Homo sapiens: one gene and its partner. The protein of the gene in region 1 interacts with the protein of each later gene in a biochemical or structural test. Each region holds a gene or a part of one and is shown on either strand. Other genes may lie near its edges.

The links. The genes of interacting proteins can lie anywhere in the genome.
Region 2: the proteins of ZBTB16 (region 1) and SIN3A form a complex in vitro, tested with the Homo sapiens proteins (3 studies listed by BioGRID).

The regions. Positions count from the first base shown.
Region 1 is NC_000011.10:114,244,647-114,248,398, forward strand, and holds part of ZBTB16 (zinc finger and BTB domain-containing protein 16), read left to right. Parts: intron 1-2,551; coding exon 2,552-2,719; intron 2,720-3,752. UniProt on the Homo sapiens protein: Acts as a transcriptional repressor. Transcriptional repression may be mediated through recruitment of histone deacetylases to target promoters. May play a role in myeloid maturation and in the development and/or maintenance of other differentiated tissues.
Region 2 is NC_000015.10:75,410,084-75,413,835, reverse strand, and holds part of SIN3A (paired amphipathic helix protein Sin3a), read left to right. Parts: intron 1-790; coding exon 791-1,073; intron 1,074-2,092; coding exon 2,093-2,344; intron 2,345-3,549; coding exon 3,550-3,702; intron 3,703-3,752. UniProt on the Homo sapiens protein: Acts as a transcriptional repressor. Corepressor for REST. Interacts with MXI1 to repress MYC responsive genes and antagonize MYC oncogenic activities. Also interacts with MXD1-MAX heterodimers to repress transcription by tethering SIN3A to DNA.

The DNA.
Region 1 (3,752 bases):
TGTTTGTTTTTCCTTCTAAGTTCTTTTTATTCTTTTCCCTGGGCAGACTCAAGAATTTCCTATTTAAACTCATTTAACATGTGCTCCACTTCATAATTAAATTCCTAAAAATCGGATCAAACAAACTCCTCTGTCTTAACCCTTTGTTTTTTAAATTGTTAGGGACCCCTCTGGAGGGGAAAGGCACAGGCAGCCGCCCCCTTCCCCCCCACCGCCGCCTTCACCCCCACCCGGCTGGGTGGCTGCCGATGTACGTTTTAATTACCGGCTCCAGCTGAAGTCTCACGTGGCCTTGGCTTTATTTATTTATTTATACCTTAATGAGGATACTGAATCTTTGATTAAAGTCGTAATCGTTGCCGATTCAGTAAGGAGGGGGAGTTGGATGTCAGACCAGACAGGGCTGTGAGTGCAGACACACGGAGAGAGTGGGTTCGGGTGCACACACAGACTGGCCCTTACTGTGTTAGACACACAACTAATTAGTACCAGGGTCTGCACAGGCCTCCACTCCCTTGAGTTTGATGGGGCTGGGGGCCAGGCAGTCCGCATGGCTCTGGCAGTGAGGATGGGCAGGTAGCAATTTCCCCAACTGAGAACCCTGGGCCTTGGCCCATCCCCAGATCTGCAGGTGAGGGACTCGCTGGCCGAGCCTCTGAGCCAGTGCAACACCCCATAGATTGGGGTGAACTGGTGTCAAGGCACGATGCCACTCTTTGAGCTTCTCTCATCTGATTCCCTGATGGAAGTGCCCCTCTCATGGCATGGGTGCTTCTTGCAAATCTTCCACCCATGAGAAAGTCACTGATCAGACCCCAGCATCCGCTCCCCTCAGAGCCCTAAAAACCCCTCAGAGCCATCAGAACAGATGAGAATTTATGTGGGTACAGGGGCCTAACTTTGGGAGGGGGGAGCTTTGGTTAGTGGCCCGAGGAGGGGAGAGACAGGAGAGAGTAAAATATCATTTTAAAAAGGAAGTGAAGGCACAGGCATGCGAGTCTATAACGAGAAGGACAATTTATGCCCAGGCACGAGCGCAGTTTGACATGGGGATAATGCAAAAACGTAGGTCATTGTGGATGACTTAAACCTTCAGCAGCTGAAGAAAATGTATGAAATGCAGAGGACATTACACGGTTGGCAGCCCCGCACATCTGCAGAGGGACAAGTGAAATACAGTGGGCCATTCTTTACCATAAACTGTGGTTGTTGGAGATGCAGCCCAGAGAAATTGTAATTACAGTGACAAGACGAATCAGCGATATTTAAATATTCATGAACAAAGTCTGGGGTGATCAATCTATCTTTATTGTCTGCGCCTTCACTCCTGTAATAAATAAGTAGCTGGAGTCCTCACCTTTCATCCCCCAAGCCCCCCACTTTGGATATGAAAGGCAAGATGGTTATTCTCCACACCCCAACCTCTCATGCTCTGGAGATTTAAGAGTGGGATCCTCAAAAAAGAAAAGGCAGTTCTCTCCAAGTTTCATAGACCCACCATTTCCTGGGTCTGTTCTGGATCCTCCCTGTGCGATACACTGAGGCTACAAGGATGGGTGAGGCTTGCTTCTTATCCTGGTGGTGCTTCCATGCTGGAGGTATGGTGGGCAAGCCAGTAGATACAGCATAGTGTGTCAGCAAGCTGACAAGTATATGGTACCCTGACTCTAGAGCCAGACCCAAACCTGAATCCCAACTCAGCTCCTTACTTGCCGTTTCACCTTAGGGATGATGTGGAAGCATCTCATTTTTTTCTCAACTGTAAAATGAGACTAATATCTTTCTTTAAGTTTGTTGCCATGATCATCTGATGCGATCACATCACACATCTGAGTGCTCAGGAAATGTAGCCCATTTTAATGCGAAAGTGGCATAAAAATGATACCACACTAATAACAGAACAAAATTCTGGGCATTTCTTCTCTTTGGGGACACAGAAGAAAGTGTGATTCATTCTGCCTGGGGAACTAAAGGGAAGCGTCCACGCGGGGGTATCATATGAGCTGGGCTTTGAAGGATGATTAGGAGTTCACCAGGGAGAAAAGAAGAAATCGAGCAGAGGAAACAGCTATGTAAGACTGTGGAGGAAGGAAATTGGGGACTGTAGAAGGTGTTTGGGGGACAATGTGAAGTTCCTCAAATTGGAGAGATTTCTTTGAAGGTTGGGGAGTCAGGCTGGAGTGACTTTCACCCTTAACCTAAAGGAAGGGGAGAAGAGGTCATCTGAGAAGCAAGATGGTGAGGTCTCATGTATCCACAAGGGGGCTTGCTTTCTGGGGACTGCTGTCCATCCCTGAACCAAATGGGCTCTCTTTCCCAGGACTGGCCCTTGCCCCACAGATGATCATGGGGCCACAGTAAAGTATGGTCATGTGTGAAGACAGGTATTGCTTGTTTATTCAATGGAGGTGTGGCCGTGGATCCTTAAGTTGTCTTTGGAGGTGGTGAATACAGGCCGTCGCATCCTTCTCATGCACAGAATGTGCCCTACTGTCCCCTGAAGAGGGGGCAGGGAGAGGCAAAGGCCTGATCCAGCCCCTTGTCTCCACAGGCGACCACCCCTACGAGTGTGAGTTCTGTGGCAGCTGCTTCCGGGATGAGAGCACACTCAAGAGCCACAAACGCATCCACACGGGTGAGAAACCCTACGAGTGCAATGGCTGTGGCAAGAAGTTCAGCCTCAAGCATCAGCTGGAGACGCACTATAGGGTGCACACAGGTACCGAAGGCCAGGGAGGGGCCTGAGCTGGCTCTGGGACCTGGGCGGAGGTGGGAAGCAGATAGTCTCCTAGAGAAGCCTAAGTGAGGATGATCCCAGGCTGAATCAAAGAGTAGAAGAGGTTCTATTAAGAGCTGGTATGGTGGCCTGAGGACCACCACACCCCAGTCAAGGTGGCCTGAGGGCCATCAGTCAAGGCCAAGGCAGACATTACTAATCAATCCCAGCACACTTTCCAGTGAGCCCCCATCAGCCCTCCAGGCAGCTATACCAGTAGTTCAGAGGTGACATGCAAAATGATGTCTGTATATGAGTCCTGAATTAGGGGTAAGTTGGTCCAATTAGCTGAAAGTGAAGGTTAGGGTAATTTCATGTTACTCAAGGGTTAGAGTAAGAATTAGGATACATTGAATTAGGTTGTTATGAAGGTTGGGAAGTTGTAAAGTTAGATTGTGTTTGGTTCTGAGATTAGAAGAGCAGATATATTTAATAATCCCTATATGCATATGATGTTTTACCACTTCAGAGTGCCTTCACATTTTTTTTTTTTAGACGGAGTTTCGCTCTTATTGGCCAGGCCGGAGTGCAGTGGCACGATCTCAGTTCACTGCAATCTCTGCCTCCTGGGTTCAAGCGATTCTCCTGCCTCAGCCTCCCAATTACCTGGGATTACAGGTGTGTGCCACCACGCCCAGCTAATTTTGTATTTTTTTTAGTAGAGACAGGGTTTTGCCATGTTGGTCAGGCTGGTCTCGAACTCCTGACCTCAAGTGATTCACCCGCCTCGGCCTCCAAAGTGCTGGGATTACAGGCGTGAGCCACCGTGCCCATCCACATTATTTTTTGTATTGGAAAAAGAAATGTGGGCCACTGTTTTCCCTGAGGTCAAAAGACAAAACAAGTGAAGGGTCTTCCACAGTTTCCCAAGTTGGGGGCAGTGAAGTCCTGGAGCTTGCTTGTGAAAGCTAATTTTTCACATTTCTTCACAACTTCAAGTTCAGTGACACCACCTTAGTTGCTTAAAATTGGCCAC
Region 2 (3,752 bases), on another chromosome or scaffold:
ACTGGTATATCAAAGAGTGAATCTTGTTTGGGATATGTAGCTTTATATATATCATCTGAGTATCTGCTTGGTAGAATTATTACAATGAACATATATTCTGTTAAAAATTTTGACCATTCCAAAAATTAGCCGGGCATGGTGGCGGGTGCCTGTAATCCCAGCTACTTGGGAGGCTGAGGCAGGAGAATTGCTTGAACCCAGGAGGCGGAGGCTGCAGTGTGCCGAGATTGTGCTACTGCACTCCAGCCTGGGCAACAGAATGAGACTCTGTCTCAAAAAAAAAAAAAACAAATTGTGGCCAAGTATCTTTGAGTCTAAAACTAAATGGCTTTGGAATTTCAGAGTTCGTGTGTTAATTTTAAAATGCGTAGATGATCTGTTTTCCTGTTTAGAGAAAACCTAGTAGAAAGTGAAATTTTGAGTGAGGTGGCTCATGCCTGTAATCCCAGCACTTTGGGAGGCCAAGGTGGGCGGATCACCTGAGGTCAGGAGTTCGAGACCAGCCTGGCCAACATGGTGAAACCCCACCTGTCCTAAAAATACAAAAATTAGCCGGGTATGGTGGCGCATGCCTGTAATCCCAGCTACTTGGGAGGCTGAGGCAGGAGAATCACTTGAACTCGGGAGGTGGAGGTTGCAGTGAGCCAAGACCCCAAGATTGCACCATTGCAGTCCAGCCTGGGCAACAGAGTGAGACTCCGTCTCAAAAGAAAAAAAAACATGAAATTTTTTCTTAACAGGGTGTTTGTTAAGCTTACAGTTTATCACTTTTCTTTTTGTTTTTTATCAGCATCGACACCCCAGGAGTGATTAGTCGTGTGTCCCAGCTATTCAAAGGCCACCCCGATCTGATAATGGGATTCAACACCTTCTTGCCCCCTGGCTACAAAATTGAGGTGCAAACCAATGACATGGTGAATGTGACAACTCCTGGCCAGGTTCATCAGATTCCCACCCATGGCATCCAGCCACAGCCTCAACCACCACCCCAACATCCTTCCCAGCCTTCAGCCCAGTCAGCCCCAGCTCCTGCCCAGCCAGCTCCTCAGCCCCCACCTGCCAAAGTCAGCAAGGTGAGCACTTGGAAAATATTGCATCAATATGAATGCATCCCTAGAGAGCACCTTCCTTTGATGTTTCCCCTTTATATAAGACTTAGATACTGAGAAACAAAGTTACAAAGATTTCGTCATAGAAAAATGCTGTATGAAAACTTCACTATGACATGGTTCACATTTACACATCACTTACTTAGGTATCTATTTAAATCAACACAGCAACAACTTTCAAGGTCTTTCTTTTTACAGTTTCTGCTTATAAAACCATGAACATCCCAACAGGTGGTGACTTTGTGTAGTAGTAGTTGACAGCACAGATAGAAACCATCGTCTTATCCTGGTCAAATTGTGCTGCTGCCCACATGGTTATTTTATGAAAGTTATTTCACTAACTAGATTATATCAAGCTAAGTAGAAGATCTAATGAATAGTGATAGTGATGGTGATGAAGATGGGGTGTTCTTGGTCTAGAACCACACTGTCTGACACAGTAGCCACTAGCCACATAGGACTATTTAAATTAAATTCAGTTTTTCATTTGCACTAGCTTTCAAGTGCTCAGTAACCTCATGTGGCTGGTGGCTATGTATAAGACAGTGCAAATAAAGGACATTTCCATCATCTCAGTTCTACAGGACAGAGTTGGCGTAGAAGACTTTTTTATGTGGAGCTACTGCAACAGTTGTCTTGTTGTTGACATCAAAAGGCTATGTAGAATGAGATTTTTTCTATGTGTACTTGTTGAGCTACTAAGCTAAAACATTGCATATGAAAAATTCTTCCCTGTAATTGGAGATGGCTCCAGTTTTAAGGTTTTATTTAGAAAATGTGAGACTGAAATATTTGTATCAGCATGTTTGAACCGCCTACAACTCCCACTGCTGCCCAGTATGATTTGTGTTGGACTAAAATGACCTGGCCTGAGTGAGTAAATAAAGGATATACGTTGACACCTTGTTTCTCTTTAGTTTGAACTTTCCTTGTATCAACTCATCTATGCATCTGAAGAGAATAAAGATTTCTTTTCTTTCTAGCCCTCCCAACTGCAAGCACATACTCCGGCCAGTCAGCAGACTCCCCCACTTCCACCGTATGCATCCCCACGTTCTCCGCCGGTCCAGCCTCACACACCAGTGACAATCTCGTTGGGAACGGCCCCATCCTTGCAGAACAATCAACCTGTGGAGTTTAATCATGCCATCAACTATGTTAATAAGATCAAGAACAGATTTCAGGGCCAACCAGACATCTACAAAGCATTCCTGGAGATTTTGCACACATATCAGGTAAGGAGTGCCCATTCAGCCTGTCTTAACCAGGTCACCCTCTTAGGGCATCTAGTCCAATAACAAGTAACCATTATTGTGTCCATTAATTCATACTGGAAATTAACCAGTTAGAAACTATCATGCATGTTTTTAAAGCCAGTTTGTTTGTTTGTTTGTTTTTCGAGACGGAGTCTTGCACTGTCACCCAGGCTGGAGTGTAGTGGCACGATCTCAGCTCACTGCAGTCTCCGCCTCCCGGGCTCAAGTGATACTCCTGCCTTAGCCTCCCTAGTAGCTGGGATTACAGGCTCCGCCCACCACGCCCAGCTAATTTTTTGTATTGTTAGTAGAAATGGGATTTCACTATGTTGGCTAGGCTGGTCTCGAACTCCTGACCTTGTGATCTGCCCACCTTGGCCTCCCAAAGTGCTGGGATTGCAGGCGTGAGCCACCGCCCCCATGCTATAAAGCCAGTTTTATTTGCCTGACTTGATTGCCCTGCAACATTCAGTCAGGATTTTTTTTTTTTTTTTTGAGACAGAGTTTTGCTCTTTTTGCCTAGGCTGGAGTGCAATAGTGCAGTGTCGGCTCACTGCAGCCTCTACCTCCCGGGTTCAAGTGATTTCTTGTATTTTTAGTAGAGACGGGGTTTCAACATGTTGGCCAGGCTGGTCTCAGGTGATCCACCCGCCATGGCCTCCCAAAGTGCTGGGATTGCAGGCATGAGCCACCGTGCCCGGCCTCAGTCAGGATTGTTAGTCACTGTCCCATGAAATGAAACTCAGTTTTATCTGGGACAGTTAGATGGTGATTTATATAGTCTAGTTAATGTACAGTAGGAGGAGGAGAAATTTCTAAGGTTTTGTCAGTTGGTAGTGGTCCCCTGGGCATTAATATTTATTGCCCTAGGCCGGGCATGGTGTCTCACGCCTGTAATCCCAGTACTTTGGGAGGCCGAGACAAGTGCACTCCAGCCTGAGCAACAAGAGTGAAACTCCGTCTCAAAAATATTTACTACCCTAGTTTTGAAAGGAATTGTCATCCACCATCTTCAACTTTTTTTTTTTCTCAACTTGAAAGTCTGTGGTCAGAACGGGTGCTAAGAACATAGACTTTCTTCTTACATGCAGCCTAAATAGATAACAGTGATTCCAGAAAGCGTGCAAAGATGAGTGACTCAAAACAGTAGCCCAAATGATCTCTTTTCATTTGCAATTCCTCAGAAAGAGCAGAGAAATGCCAAGGAAGCTGGAGGAAACTACACTCCAGCATTGACAGAGCAGGAGGTGTATGCCCAGGTTGCTCGTCTCTTTAAAAACCAGGAAGATTTGTTGTCAGAGTTTGGACAATTCCTACCAGATGCCAACAGCTCCGTGGTATGTTTTTTTAATAAGAATTACACTATTTACTATTATTATCTTAGATG